4 linked regions of the Homo sapiens genome follow. The protein of the gene in region 3 interacts with the protein of the main gene of each other region in a pairwise test. Each region holds a gene or a part of one and is shown on either strand. Other genes may lie near its edges.

Evidence for each region. The genes of interacting proteins can lie anywhere in the genome.
Region 1: the proteins of ARFGAP3 (region 3) and NDUFS5 interact in binary tests that used the Homo sapiens proteins (3 or more experiments, as listed by UniProt).
Region 2: the proteins of ARFGAP3 (region 3) and PEX1 interact in binary tests that used the Homo sapiens proteins (3 or more experiments, as listed by UniProt).
Region 4: the proteins of ARFGAP3 (region 3) and GJA1 interact in binary tests that used the Homo sapiens proteins (3 or more experiments, as listed by UniProt).

What each region holds. Positions count from the first base shown.
Region 1 is NC_000001.11:39,032,233-39,035,115, forward strand, and holds the end of NDUFS5 (NADH dehydrogenase [ubiquinone] iron-sulfur protein 5), read left to right. Parts: intron 1-2,159; coding exon 2,160-2,264; 3' UTR 2,265-2,383; downstream 2,384-2,883. UniProt on the Homo sapiens protein: Accessory subunit of the mitochondrial membrane respiratory chain NADH dehydrogenase (Complex I), that is believed not to be involved in catalysis. Complex I functions in the transfer of electrons from NADH to the respiratory chain.
Region 2 is NC_000007.14:92,522,021-92,525,520, reverse strand, and holds part of PEX1 (peroxisomal ATPase PEX1), read left to right. Parts: intron 1-3,275; coding exon 3,276-3,419; intron 3,420-3,500. UniProt on the Homo sapiens protein: Component of the PEX1-PEX6 AAA ATPase complex, a protein dislocase complex that mediates the ATP-dependent extraction of the PEX5 receptor from peroxisomal membranes, an essential step for PEX5 recycling.
Region 3 is NC_000022.11:42,800,917-42,806,151, reverse strand, and holds part of ARFGAP3 (ADP-ribosylation factor GTPase-activating protein 3), read left to right. Parts: intron 1-5,235.
Region 4 is NC_000006.12:121,434,331-121,438,445, forward strand, and holds the start of GJA1 (gap junction alpha-1 protein), read left to right. Parts: upstream 1-1,315; 5' UTR 1,316-1,502; intron 1,503-4,115. UniProt on the Homo sapiens protein: Gap junction protein that acts as a regulator of bladder capacity. A gap junction consists of a cluster of closely packed pairs of transmembrane channels, the connexons, through which materials of low MW diffuse from one cell to a neighboring cell.

The sequences.
Region 1 (2,883 bases), on a different chromosome or scaffold from region 3:
TAGCTAGTAAATGGTGGAGCTGGGATTTTATCCTGGCAAGGCTGGCTTCAATACCTATGCTTTTATCCAGAGTTACTGCTTTTAGCTCAGAGAAAGATTTGACATATGGTATTGTCATAGTTCAAAACCATGACTAGTCTTGTGTTGGGAGACTCTAAGATAAATGGTAAGAATGTAGTCTTTTAAAATGGTTAATGTTTATTTCAGGGTTTTTTCTACTGAAGTTATATCAACACTACTTCTTTAAGGTTAATGAGACGTTTAACTGAATATACTAATTTTTCGTATCTTTGTGAAAAGTTAGTCATTGGTTAAAAAAATTATGTCAGAAACTAGTCTAGGCACTAGGAATACAGTAAGCAAAACAGCAAAAAAAAAAAATCTCAGAGTCAGTGAGCTTATGCTATAGTGGGAGGAAGAGCAGAAAAATAACAAGTAAAAATACAGGTGATAATAAGTGCTGTGAGGAGAATAAACAGAAGGATAGAAAGTGCTAGGGGCAGGAGCTAGGTGGATGCTACTTTAAATAGTCAGAGAAGATCTCAGCAAAAGAAGACAGACCAGAGACTTAAAGAAAGTGAGCTATGTGGTTATGAGGGAAGAATGTTCCATGCAGAGGAAACAGCAAGTGCAAAGGTCCCTGAGCTGACTGGAGGGAGCTAGGGGAATATTAAGAGATGAAGTCACTGGAGTAGGCCTTGTAAACCATGATAAGGATTCATCTTTTTGTCTCAGTAAGATAGCCATTGCAGGGTTTTGAGCAGAGGAATAATGTGATCAGATTTAGTAAATTTTCTGTGTCACAGAATCCAGGGACCAGTTCATTGTTGTGGCTTTGACACACTTGTGTAACATAGTTTTGATTTGTTGAGAAGCAACCAATGCCCTGAGTAGAAGAGACAGAATTCAAGACTCAGCGGTGACTAGTGGCTGAGTAAGAATCAGGCCTTTACTTCCATATGGGGAAAAGAGAACTCATATTGGCTATTTCTGCTTCATTCATACCCATTGCATAGTCACCAGCAGCAGTGCCACTTCCACATAGAATATGTAAGTGCTTGCCGGGTGCGGTGGCTCACGCCTGTAATCCCAGCACTTTGGGAGGCCGAGGCTGGCGGATCACGAGGTCAGGAGATCGAGACCATCCTGGCTAACATGGTGAAACCCCATCTCTACTAAAAATACAAAAAATTAGCCGGGTGTGGTGGCGGGCGCCTGTAGTCCCAGCGACTCGGGAGGCTGAGGCAGGAGAATGGCGCGAACCCAGGAGGCGGAGGTTGCAGTGAGCTGAGATCGTGCCACTTTGTCACCCAGGCTGGAGTACAGTAGCGCGATCTCAACTCACTGCAACCTCCGCCTCCCGGGTTCAAGCGATTCTCCTGCCTCAGCCTCCTGAGTAGCTGGGACCACAGGCGCGCGCCACCACGCCTGGCTAATTTTTGTATTTTTAGTAGAGACAGAGTTTCACCATATTGGCCAGGCTGGTCTTGAACTCCTGACCTTGTGATTCGCCCGCCTCGGCCTCCCAAAGTGCTGGGATTACAGGCGTGAGCCACCACGGCCCAACTTTTATTTATTTATTTATTGAGACAAAGTCTCACTCTGTCACCCAGGTTGGAGTGCAGCAGTTCAATCTTGGCTCACTGCAACCTCCGCCTCCCAAGTTCAAGCAATTCTCCTGCCTCAGCCTCCCGAGTAGCTGGGATTACAGATGTGCACCACCATCCCTGGCTAATTTTTGTATTTTTAGTAGAAACAAGGTTTTACCTTGTTGGCCAGTCTGGTCTTAAACTCTTGACCTCAGTGATCCACCCGCCTCAGCCTCCCAAAGTGCTGGGATTAAACTTTTGATATTTTAAAAGATTTTAGTATCCACAAATATGCCTCTTAAAGGTTTTTGCAAATATCCATATTGCTATATATATTAAGAACATTTTAGTTGTTAGTTTTCAGAGAGGTTATGTATACTAAAAATTTGTTTGAAAGCTTGGGAAGTGATTTCATGTTAATTCTTTAAAGGCGGACTTCATTTCAGAGGCCCCGTAAGATGAAAGGCCTTTTGTAGTTTAAAAATGAAACCAAAATTGATCTGTTTTTCCAGTTCTCACTTTTTGGCACATATCTCCTCCCTCAGTTTAATTACCATTTTCCTTTGACAGATGAGACGTGCAGGTACCATCAGGAAGCAGCGGGATAAGCTGATAAAGGAAGGAAAGTACACCCCTCCACCTCACCACATTGGCAAGGGGGAGCCTCGGCCCTGAACAGAGCAGCTGCTGATGTCTGGAGGCTGATTTTCCTGTTCTCTGTTCTCCACTGGAAAGGTTGTTTACGACAAACCTCCTTGTCAAAGTGTGTAAAAATAAAGGATTGCTCCATCCTATTTGTTCTATTTTCTCTTGGATCATGACTTTCTTTTCTTTTCTTTTTTTGTTTTTGAGACAGAGTCTTGCTCTGTTGGCCAGGCTAGAGTGCATTGGCACGATCTTGGCTCACTGCAACCACCATCTCCCAGATTCAAGTGGTTCTCCTGCCTCAGCCTCCCAAGTAGCTGGGACTACAGGCATGCACCACCACACCCAGCTAATTTTTGTATTTTTGGTAGAGGTGGGGTTTCACCATGTTGGCTAGGCTGGTCTTGAACTCCTGACCTCATGTGGTCTACCCACATCGGCTTCCCAAAGTGCTGGGATTACAGGCACGAGCCACTGTGCCCAGCCATATCATGCCTTTCTATACTGAGATTATAACCTATTTTTTAAATTTGATTTTAAAAACAGTTGAAACTTTTAGACAGTTCCTAAAAAATTAGCAGCTATGGAATAATAACTAACATTTAATTAACAATGTGTACAAGATACTTTAAATATGTTAACTCATTTA
Region 2 (3,500 bases), on a different chromosome or scaffold from region 3:
TTGAGAACCACCGCTTCAACTAAGTTATCTTCTCTGTACTCAGAACTTGATGTGATTGCAGCAGGGGGAGAGGATTCATATACACAGTGAATGCAAACGAACCTAAATCACCATTCGGATATGGCCACACAATTTTCATTTCCCTTGTGTTAGCAAGAGATACCCTAGGCTTTGGACCTGATTATTCCTAAGGCATTCTGATGTATGGTTTTACCTGCAGATTTCCTGGTAATACTGATACCTCAGTTTGGGTCAAAGAAGGTCAATTAATTGATTGATTTGATTTGACTCCTGGAAAAGACGCTCCTTTCTAGCTGTCTCTTTCTTCTCTTTACCTGAATAGCCAGGGCTCTGTGGTTCAAGTGAAGTATTTTGACATAAAAATTAACTTAGAACATTGGTCTGCAGAGTTTGCTCAATATAACTGAGCACATATTGTGGCTTTATGGAGCTGGTTACTACTTTTTGACCAAATAAATAATTAGAAGTATTTTTCCTCCTCAATAAGGTTCATTTTTCCTTTTTTCAGTGAGCTGGTAGAGTTTCCTTTTTTGATATTTCAGGGCATCTTTCATATTTCCATCTCTTAAGTTTCTTCATATGAAGTAGAATTTATCTGGATTATGTATTGCTGACTCTGATGAAAACCCATAGAAAGCATCTGGGGCTTGATCACCTTCATTCTTGTAATAGCTCACACGGTTACAGCTGATATGGTAACTTAAGACTTTTGATTCCAAATCTAGGCAAAATACACTCAGTTGAAAGAATTTGTCAGCCAGAACAGTTGGACTGTTCTGTGAAAATTGTGAGAAAAATTACACAACTAAGTGATACATGATGATGGCTTTCTTAAATATAAAATTGTAATAACATGGTTAATTTCCAGTACGTTATATTGTCCCAGAAGTGGCTCCAACATTGTTTGAAATTTGTCTCATTTAAAGAAACATAAGCTGGCTATGGTGGCTCACGCCTGTAATCCCAGCACTTTGGGAGGCTGAGGCAGGCAGATCACCTGAGGTCAGGAGTTCGAGACCAGCCTGGCCAACATGGTAAAACCCCATCTCTACTAAAAATACAAAAATTAGCCGGGCATTTGGTGGGGGCCTGTAATCCCAGCTACTTGGGAGGCTGAGGCAGGAGAATTGCTTGAATCTGGGAGGTGGAGGTTGCAGTGAGCCGAGATTGTGCCACTGCCCTCCAGCCTGGGTGACAGAGTGAGTCTCCGTCTCAAGAAAAAAAAAAAAAAAAGCAAGAAACATAAAGACTGGGCATGTTGGCTCATGCCTGTAATCCCAGCACTTTGAGAGACTGAGGTGGGAAGATCACTTGAGCCCAGGAGGTTAAGGCTGCAGTGAGCCGTGATTTTGCCACTGTACTCGAGCCTGGGCAACACAGTGAGATCCTGTCTCAGGAAAAAAAAAATTGCATGTAAATGAATGAATTTGATATTTAATATTTTAAATTATGAAAACTGTTCTGTAGAGATGTAGATCTTGCCATGTTGCCCAGGCTGGCTTTGAACTTCTGGGCTCAAACAATCCTCCTGTCTCAGTCTCCCAAAGTATAAAGATTACACATGTGAGCCACTGCACCTGGCCTAATATTTTTAACTTAATGAATTTATTTTGATATAAATAAATTAATAACACTGAAGCTTCCTGATATAATAAGTCTTTTTGTGTGTGTGACGGGTTCTCACTCTGTTGCCCAGACTGGAGTGTAATGGCACTATCATGGCTCACTGTAGCCTCAACCTCCCTGACTCAAGTGATCCTCCCACCTCGGCTTCCTGAGTAGATGGGACCACAGGCGTATGCCACCACACCTGGCTGATTTTTAAAATTTATTATTGATACATATTAATAAAATTATTTTTATTTTAAAAATGATATATGTGGCTGGGCATGGTGGCTCATGCCTGTAATCCCGACAGTTTGGGAGGCCGAGGTGGGAGGATCACTTGAGACCAGGAGCTTAAGACCAGCCTAAGCAACATAGTGAGATCCCATCTCTATAGAAAAAAAAAATGGCTAGGTGTGGTGGTGTATGCCTATATTCCCAGCTACTCAGGAGACTGAGGTGAGAGGATTGCTAGAGCCCAGGAGTTTCAAGTTACAGTGACCTATGATTGTGCCAGTGCACTCCAGCCTGGGCAACAGAGCAAAATCCTGTCTCAAAAAAAAAAAAAGTTCGAAAATGCTTATGATGCAATATAAGTAGTGGAAAAGGATATTAAATTGTGCCTATATGAACACAACTATATGAAAAACTTGCACATAGAGAAAAGGATTAACAAGAAATAGACCAAATTGTTCACATGGTTGTCTTGTTTGTGGAGAGAATATCAGTAGTTCATTTGTTTCCTTCCAAGTTTATATGTTTTCCGAGGTCTCTATAATGAGTTTGTAATTGTTTAATCATAGAAAACCCTTTTTTGGTCCTTGGCCACAAACTTACATGTTTTAATGTAATTGCTTTTTTAATGAGAATAAATGTTATATTTTGCTTTTTTAAAACCTATATTCCCATAGTTATATGAGCCCTTACAATTATTAAGAGGCTGCATAATATAACGTTTCTGGAAGGGTACAGAAGAAACAGCAGTAATTACCTCTGAGAACAGAGACATGGCTTCACATTTTACCCTTTTGTACGTTTTGTGCTTTTGCCACATGCATTTATTATTCTTCCAATAAATAAGTAAATAAATATGGATTGTATACTCCATCTGGTTGGTGTTTCATAATTCTAAAATTATATTGCTACATTTTTAAAGATGATATGTGTTTCTACTTATTAACGTATATGTTAAAATAGTAAATTTATATCTTATTTAATAATTTCCCTATTGATAGACATTTAAGACAGTCTCAAGTGTTCACTATCATAGAAAATACTGCACAGATAGCTTTTGCTATAGTTTCTTTTTTCTTTGAATCGTTAATTGGGAATAAATGCTCAAATAGTTATATGTGGCTCAACTGCTATTTAAGTTTATTGACTGACTGCTGCCATTTTGAATTCTGAAGGGGTTGATTAAATTTATAATGCTGCCATAAGAATATAAGGGTATTGGCTTCATTAGCATCCACCAGCATTGGGTGTTGGAAATGATTATAGATTTTTAAATGCTACAACAAATGTAGATAACAGAGAACTATCTATAGAACTCTTTTTGGACATGTGAATTGTAATAATAGTTTATTTTCATGTGAATCCAGAAAAATGTATACGAAAACCTTTTTTCCTCTCATTTCTTATATGAATAGAATCAAGCTATAGAAGTGGTCTGGAGTCACCAGCCTGCATTCTTGAGCTGGGTGGAAGGCAGGCATTTTAGTGATCAAGGTGAAAATGTGGCTGAAATTAACAGACAAGTTGGTCAAAAACTTGGACTCTCAAATGGGGGACAGGTAAGCACATGTGATGGCAATAACTTTCTTCTAATATCACATAATATAGCAATAGAAATAAAATTAAAAGTTTAGATTTTT
Region 3 (5,235 bases):
AAGCCTGGCACCCTCAGCATCCCTAGGCCTAGAGGAGCTGGCTGTGGCTCTAAGTGACCAACCTAGGCTATCACTTGGCCTTACAGCCACAGAGAACAGCTGTTTTCAGAGTCCAAAGAGAAACAGCTCGAGAGAGGTCTGAGTGTCGGACATTCTGGGTTGTGGTTTGGGGATGTTATAGAGACACACTGTGGCCCTCGGGGTGCAGTGGGCACTGCCAAGTTGCTGTGCTGCAGTGGAGGGAGAGTCCTAGCCAGGTGGCAGCAAGTGAGACAAGGGTTGTGTTGGCAGAGCAGCTGGCAGAGAGCCAGGCAGCCCAAGGAGCCAGAGGCCAGGGCCAGAGTGGACAAGCCCCGGCACATCCGCTGCCAGTGAGAGTGTGAGGGTGCCTGGGGGTGCGCAGCCAGGGCCACGGCTCCCCTGAGCCACTCTTTGGTCAGGAGCACACCCTGTGCCTCACCCCAGACTTGAGCAGAGGGGCCTCGTTTCCCTTGGGCAGTCAGTTACTTGCTGACTGGGCATTTCCTGGCAGTGAGTCTTGGTGGGGGCAGGTGAGGCTCATTGGCTTGTTCCATCTCCAAACTTTCAGTGTCCTGGCCTGTTGTCAGGGCAACTTCCTTTTGTGACCACCCCTGGCAGAGAGGCACTCCGGCCACCTTTGGAGACCTCCAGCAGCCCCACAGGTCAGTGCTGGGTCGCCTTGTAGGGGCCCTGGCACAGCCAGCAGCCGGTCCAGAGACCTGCATTGTTCAGTCCCCTGACTCCCTGCAATGGATGCCTTTGTAATTTAAATCAATAGAAGTTTTACTCTGAAGCACTGTTTGTTTTTTTAAAAAAATATTTGGAGATCAAATGAGAGCAGCCTTTCCAGTTACTGAACAAAAATAGTGGCAGCCTGTGTTTACCTTCCTGTTCCCTTTCAGAGAACAAAGATCCATTAAATTTTTTTGACCCTGTGTGGATGCCAAACCAACCCTGGTTCCTGGCACCTCGTGGTCATTGTAAGGTGCACCCTGGGGTGAGAGGCCACCCAGAAACTCACTCCCCTGCCCCCGCCGGGGTCTAACTGTGTTGCCCAGGCTGGTCTCAAACTCCGGGCCTTGAGCAAACCTCCCTCCTCAGCCTCCCAAGAAGCTGGAATTACAGGCACCAGCAACTTTTATTAAATATTTACTTTTTATTATTCAGAGCATATTTCAACAAAGAGCTTTGTGTGTTCTGCCTCCATAAAGCTTGTTTTATTTTATAAATTTTTTTTTCTTTTATTTTGTCTTTAATACTTTCCTATTGAAGTAAAAGCTTGTTTTAAGAAAACAAGTTCTTAAAACTTGTTCTGGGCAAGGCACGGTGACTCACACCTGTAATCCCAACACTTTGGGAGGCCGAGGTAGGCGGATCACCTGAGGTCGAGAGTTCAAGAGCAGCCTGGCTAACATGGTGAAACCCCATCCCTTCTAAAAATACAAAAATTAGGCCAGTCACAGTGGCTCACGCCTGTAATCCCAGTACTTTGGGAGGCCGAGGCGGGTGGATCACGAGGTCAAGAGATCGAGACCAGCCTGGCCAACATGGTGAAGCCCCATCTCTACTAAAAATACAAAAACTAGCTTGGCGTGGTGGCATGTGCCTGTAGTCCCAGCTACTCCGGAGGCTGAGGCAGGAGTATCGCTTGAACCTGGGAGGTGGGAGTTGCAGTGTGCCGAGATCACACCGCTGCACTCCAGCCTGGAGACAGAGCGAGACTCCATCTCAAAAAAAAAAAAAAAAAAAAAAAATTAGCTGGGTGTGGTGGTGGGCGCCTGTAATCCCAACCACTCAGGCGGCTGAGGCACAAGAATTGCTTGAACCTGGGACGGGGATGTTGCAGTGGCCGAGATCGCACCATTACACTCCAGCCTGGGCAATAGAATGAGATTCTGTTTCAAAAAAAAGAAAAGGAAAAAAGAAACTATTCTGCTTGGTGGCTCACCCCTATAATCCAGCACTTTGGGAGGCTGAGGAAGACGTATCGCTTGAGCTCAGGAGTTCCAGACCAGCCTGGGCAACATGGCAAAACCGTGTCTCTACAAAAAATACAAAAATTAGCCAGGCATGGTGGTGCACACCTGTAGTCCCAGCTACTCTGGAGGCTAAGGTGGGAGGATGACCTGAGCCCAGGAGGCAGAGGTTACAGTGATCTGAGATCGTGCCACTGCACTCCAGCCTGGGTGATAGAGCCAGGCCTTGTATCAAAAAAAAAAAAAAAAAAAAAGAGGAAGGAGGGAGGGAAGGAAGGAAGGAAGGAAACAATCAGTTCTGTGTTCCTTATCTTAATTTCCAAATGTGAAACGCTTCTGGTGAGGTAAGCTGCTTTCTGGGGGTGTTTCTAGCCCAGGAGACCTGCGGCCGTTCTTACGGGCACTCTCTTTCACTGTAGCTGAAGGATTGAGTGGGAAGCGCATGTAAGTGCCTGCAGCCAACCTGACCTGGCACAGCAACAGTCCCTGTGGTCACACCCATGGGACAGGGTCATTAGAGCTGGGGGACTGCCATCAGCTGGGCACTGCCTCAGGCAGGCGTGAGGCACTCAGACACCAGATGACAGAGTGGAGGCAGCTGTGTGAGAGCCAGGATACAACAAAAAGCTTAAAACCCAGCTGCCCCCTCAGCATGTTTCCTCCCAGAAAGCCAATTCTGATTGTTTGAATGAGAGCACGTCTGCATGGGAGTGCAGACACCTGCACCCCTTCCTTGTGTGCATCGTGGGGTCAAGTGGTAGGTTGTTTGTGAGGTCCCTTAACCACTGTCTCCTTTTCTCTTTGCTCCAGCCCAGGGTCTAGGAGTGTGACCTCGAAAGCACTGCCCTCAGTCTGCATCAGGCAGTCTGGTTTGGTTATTGCCATGTGTGCTTGTCAGACAGTATAGCTGTGCAGTGGCCCCAGGAGTTCCAGACCAGCCTGGACAACATAGTGGGACCCCCATCTCTACAAAAAATTTAAAAAATAAAAAAATTAGCTAGGTGCGATGGCTAATGCCTATAGTTCCAATTACTCGGAGGCTAAGGCAGGAGGATCACTTGAACCCAAAAGATTGAGGCTGCAGTCAGCTGTGATCACACCACTGTACTCCAGCCCGGGCAACAGAGGGAGTCCCTGTCTCAAACAAACAATGCCCAAACTTGTTCTTATAATCTTGGAAATACTTTTTCTCTTCATTTGTCTGCATGAAGCAGAGAAATTAATACGTGGTATTCTATTAAAAATTCTTATTTTGGGCCAGGTGTGGTGGCTCACGCCTGTAATCCCAGCACTTTGGGAGGCCGAGGCGGGCAGATCACGGGTCAGGAGATCGAGACCATCCTGGCTAACATGGTGAAACCACATCTCTACTAAAAATACAAAAAATTAGCCAGGCATGGTGGTGGGCGCCTGTAGTCCCAGCAACTCGGGAGGCTGAGGCAGGAGAATGGCGTGAACCTGGGAGGTGGAGCTTGCAGTGAGCCGAGATCGCACCACTGCACTCCAGCCTGGGCAACAGAGCAAGACTCCATCTCAAAAAAAAAAAAAAAATTCTTATTTTGGGCCAGGCGCGGTGGCTCTCGCCTGTAATCCCAGCACTTTGGGAGGCTGAGGCGGGTGGATCACAAGGTCAGGAGATTGAGACCATCCTGGCTAACACGGTGAAACCCCATCTCTACTAAAAAATACAAAAAAAAAAAAATTATCTGGGCGTGGTGGCGGGCACCTGTAGTCCCAGCTACTCCAGAGGCTGAGGCAGGAGAATGGCGTGAACCTGGGAGGCGGAGCTTGCAGTGAGCTAAGATCGCGCCACTACACTCCAGTCTGGGTGACACAGCGAGACTCTGTCTCAAAAAAAAAAAAAAATTGTTATTTTGAGGAGCCTGGGAGTTGTCCTGGAAACTTCCACCTCCCACGTCACACCATAGACCCATATGATCAGAATCTCTCCTGGGTGACTCCAGACCTGAAACGTGGCCACAACCCGCTGCTTGGTCCTCCTGCCTCCAGTCTTGGCTGCTGCTCACCCCTCTCCTCACTCTTCCCACAGGGATCTTTCAGAACACAGTCATCTGTGCTGAAAATCCTGCCCTCAGCTTGAAGCACAGCTCCCCACCCAATGCCCACCTCCAGGACCATGGTTCCCACTGGCCTTTCCAGCCTCATTTCTCGTGATTCACTGTTGTGGCTCACTCCAGCTGTGTTGAGCCTGTGGAGCCCCCAGCCCAGAATGCTCTTCTTCCCCATTCCCCCAGACAGCCCCGCAACCCGTATTTACCCTGGGGGCCTGGTTAGGCCCCCTTGCACCACTCTTGTGCCTTACACTGAGGGCAAGACCATGCGAAGACCGTCTCCCCCAGTGGACTGTCAGTTCTCATTTCTGTGCCCTTGGCGCCTGACAGCCTGGCAGAGGAAGCCCTCTGCAGGTGTTTGAGGATGAATGGGTGGAGGGGTGATGAATGACCCCAAGGAGCTTGCTGAGTCTGAGCACCTGCCCACCGGCCAACATAGGCTGGAACACGCCTCCCCCTACCTCCCATGTCCCATGGCCAGTGCCAGGCTGCAGGGGCGATGTGTTCCGCCTCCAGCACAAGCCTTAAGAGCTGTGCGCATGTTGCCATGTTTCTTTCCCTGTCATAGTAGGCAAGGAAGCTGGAATTAAGAGGTGGCCCCATGGGCTTGGACCGCAAGTGACTGTGATGCACAGAACCCCCTGCCCACCTGCACTGGGCACAGCAAACATCAGTTGTGGGTGGTTGTTAGCTCAGAGTCACCTGGCCTGTCCTGACCCATCCAGGGCATTTGCCCCAACCACAGACCACTGTGTAGCTCAGTGTCCCCTCTGTCTCAGAGAGGGGAGCAGCTGTCTTCTTCCTGGCTGCCCAAGCAGAAACCTGGGAAACATCCTTAATCCGCCTGCCTCTCAGCCTGCCTAGGCCAGTCAGTCAGTGTGCCTCTTGACACCTGCCTCCTGAGGACGCTCAGCCCGTTCCCTCCTGATCCCCACTGCCGCCTCCTCATGCTCAGGCACCGCCCCATGCACCTGGACCCCTGCAGCCACCTCCCAGCTGTCTACCTGAGTTTGCTCTGTGTCCCCTCCAGATGACACAGGTCACACTTTAGTGATGTTATCAGTTAATTGTCTGCTTTCCCCAGTAGGTGGTGAGCTGTGGAAAAGCAGGTCTGTAGCTGTGTCCTCAGTACACACTGTGGGTGTTCTGGGAAAAGATAGGGAGGA
Region 4 (4,115 bases), on a different chromosome or scaffold from region 3:
AAAAAAACCTGCAACATTTCAAAAGATGTTATATTAGTCATTTCAGTGAAAGTTTAATTAGGGAACGGTGTCTACCAGAATATATTTGGCATCCTTCTTTTTTCTGGTATTTGCCTGAGTGAGAAAAGTGTTAGGAATAGGAAGGCCAGATGAGTTTGCTTTCCCTCCAGAGAATACTGGCCAAGAAATTTCCTGTCCAACCTCAGGAGCATCACTGAAGCCTGTTTATGAGGAATTGTCCTACCACAACACTGTGTTATGGCATTTGGGAAGCCCTCAGAGGAGCTGCCTGCTCTAAGATTGAGGCCACATGACTCAGGCCATTATAAACCCTAATGCAGAGCCCTGAAGAGGGAGAGCATTTGGAAGGGGATAGGGAAGCACATAAAGATGATATGCTCAGCTTTACTGTCGTTGGGCAGAAAACTCTCTAGTGGGCTTGAGAGGGGGAACTGATTTTAAGGAGGGCTGAATAGTTTGGGAACCTACTTAATGCAACCATAGTCTGTATTTTTAAAATCCTCACATTTCACTACAGATTTGGGTTTTAGTGTCTTGGCATAAATAGGGCCTTAATATAAATTCTTAGTTTTCTGGAGACATGGTAGAGGTCAGATATCAAGATTTCATAGGCAAACAAAACATGCTATATATGTAAAAAATGTATATACACACACAGCCTTTTGCTAAACTGAAAGAAAGTAAAAATTCAAAGCAGTCAAGGGGTTGAAAGATGGATTGGGTATGGACTTTTCTTCATCTATGTCAATTTTTGAAATCTCTCTCCCATCTCCACCATTCCCTTTGTTAATTGTCCTTGCTTACATTTAAAGGAAGGGAATTAGATCATCAAACAGGTCACTCACACCTACCTCTAACTTCACACACCTTGGTCAATGTGAAACAAGCTTGAACTGGTTATATGCTTCCCCACCATTTTTATTTATTGTAAGCTACTTTAAAAATTTTAGACAATGTTGTAATAAAAATATACACCTTTTTCCCCCATTATCCCTGGTCTTCTGGTGAAGCAAGCAGTGTAATCAATGATTCTTATGTGTGAGGAGCAACTCCAAGTAGAGGCGTTCATGTCCCTAATGCTTTTTTATTTTTCCTCATCAGCAAATTTAAACTACAACTTTATCCTGATCCCACTGCTGCTCTTTGCCTCTTCTCCCCCCAGCCCTTCCACATTTACCAGCCTCCTCCCTACCTCCTCCCAGCCTTTCCCTTTGCCCTCCCCTTTCTTCTAGCCCCTCCTCCCAGTTGAGTCAGTGGCTTGAAACTTTTAAAAGCTCTGTGCTCCAAGTTACAAAAAAGCTTTTACGAGGTATCAGCACTTTTCTTTCATTAGGGGGAAGGCGTGAGGAAAGTACCAAACAGCAGCGGAGTTTTAAACTTTAAATAGACAGGTCTGAGTGCCTGAACTTGCCTTTTCATTTTACTTCATCCTCCAAGGAGTTCAATCACTTGGCGTGACTTCACTACTTTTAAGCAAAAGAGTAAGTTTTTAAAAAATGAGAACACGTTACCTATTAGTTTCTTTTTCTACAAGTAAAACTTTTCTAAAGTTTTAAAATGTGTTAAATGTAATTTTGAATTATGATACTGTAAATGGATTGATGGATTTGAAAGTGTTTCTATAGTTTTAAAGTTAAAATTTATTGTACCAAATATATATTTTGACTGTTAAAAAAGTTTCTATTAACATTGCAACAGGTGAAAAGGTTCAAACCTTTCCGATTAGAATAAAGGATTAGTTTACTGGATGTTTGGTTTTTCATTTTAGAGTATCATTTTATTTTGTTTTTTTTTTGTAATCAGTAATAGTCTAGGTGCTATCATTTGTTGGGTGGGGGGGGGGCGGTTAGGCGCCTGGGTTGGGGGATTTGACTGACTACATCGGAAAAATCAAAGTGCAAATTTGCTTAGCGTGCTTCCTATAGTATTCTACACTTCATAGAATAAAGTGCTTTTTTCATATGGAAATCTTGATTGATGTTCTATAGCTTTGCAAAGCCAACTTCTTTTGTGACGAAGTGCTTTGTTAAAACATCGTGGTTACTTGACTTCCACGTGGTTCCTTCCTAGAATTTTCCCCATTAAACAAAAAGGTATAAAATTCAAGAGTATTAATATTATGCTTTAAAAATCAACAGTAAATTGTTACTTTGTGTTAGCAACCGCTATGGAAAGATTTGAGACCCTCAGGAGAGACAGCTTTTACTCGACCACGTTGGCAGTTTAGGAGATGAAATCTCTTGAATGGGTGGTGGCTAGTTACAGAGCATTAGAGATCAGACGTTTAAAAAAGAGTGTATGCCAGGGTACTTTTCCAAAACCGTCTCCTAAAACGGGAGCTCCTAGAAAGAGCAGGAAAAAAACTTTCTTAAACAGCGCTTTGGGAGCTCCCCCCGCCAACACCCGCCGCCCCGCACCTTCCCTCTGCTCGAACCTGTAACAGAATTCAGAACTCTGGGGCAGTTCTTTGGAGTTGGAGCTCCTAGGGCAAAGATAACGCTAATGCGTTGTTTAAAAGGGTTCAATTTTTAAAATACTTTTATTGGTAACACCCATTCTGTTCATCAGAAATGCAGCCATGCATTTTTGTGCCCGGTAAAGATTTTCTGTTCTGTGTAAATCTACAAACTAAAATAATTAGTTTAGATTCTTGACGTGACCCTGCAGTGGAAGTATTTGCACCAGTGAATGCTGAAAAGCAAATAAAAATGAAAGCTTTGCGGAGGCCGTGGGCCGGACGGGCGCGGGGCGCCTCCTGCCATCTTAGCGTCTGCCGGGATCCTTCCCGCGCCTTCGCTGCCCGAACCAGCTCGGTCTTGGGACGTTTCCCCCAAATCCTCACAAGTCAAATCGAACTCAGGTCCGAGTTCGTCACTGCAAAGGAACCCGGGGTGCGGGGTGGGAGGGATAGGAGGAGAGATGGGCTGGGTGCCAAATGGTAGAACAAATGGTTGATTTAATTAAAGTTGTCAATCTAATTTCCCATCCCTCTCACACCAGCCCTTTTTTTTTTTCTTTTTCTTTTTTCCTCTTAAACTTGCTGAATCCCACTATCTCCGCGTTGGTAAGAAAACCTGAATACCTTGGGAATTGTGCTTAAATTGCACTTGCAACTCCCCTGGAAGTTCCTGAAACTTCCCGAGAATGAGGCGGGGCGGCTCAAGGGGAAAGGGCAGGGAGGAGAGACCCTCGGGAAGCTGATGACGCGTCCGGGGCAAGTCAGCCTGTTTCCGAGACGCGCGCCTCACGGTCGTAGCAGCGCTGCGCCCACCCTGCCCCTTTAGTGACCCAGCCAGCCTTTGCTGGGGGTTTCTGATAACGCTCATCGATAAGCTCTCCTTGCTCCCAAAAGGCGTGCTTCTCTTTCTCTCCAGGTACAAAGTAGGGGTGGGAAGGGGAGAGCTACACAATGTTGTAAAAAGAAGCGTGGCTTTATTTGGAAGACGGTTGAATTTCTTTTGCTTCCTCGACCCAGTTAGTAACGACAAGAAAGATACTGAATATCGCCCTCCGAAAATCGGGCGCATTTGAACTCGGTGAAAAGTGTCCCTGTGAGGAAGCCTAATGTTTACTTTTGTGCAAGGATAACTGGAAATTAAAGCGTCTAGTAATGCAGAGATTTCATTAAGCGAGCGCTCCCCTCCCCCCCGCGCCAGGAATGAAATAAGCCAGTTAGACAGAAAACACTTTTGGGAGAAGACTAATTACTTCTGGGTAGGCCGAATTGACTGGAAATTATACCAAGCAAAGGCAGTACATTCCATTCCGTCCTGGCGATGTTGATTCTATATTATTAGAACATTGTTCCCCCAGTGTGGGGGTGCTTTGTACTTCCCAAAGTCAGGGTAGACTGGTTACCTGGGAAAATGCAGTGTTAGTGCTTTGCTCCTACTTTCTTCACTGTTTAAACATGTTCCACATTTTTCTAATGCCTTCTGAGGGTTCTCAACCCAGCCACTGAGTTCCTCACCCTTGGCGACTGTGATACCAACAATGCTGTCACCCTCCTTGGGAAACATGGTTGCAAAGATGCTCCGCAGGAGGCAGATAAAAGGCTGTGCTTTCAGATACTGAAGGTTGCTTTGTTACTTAGA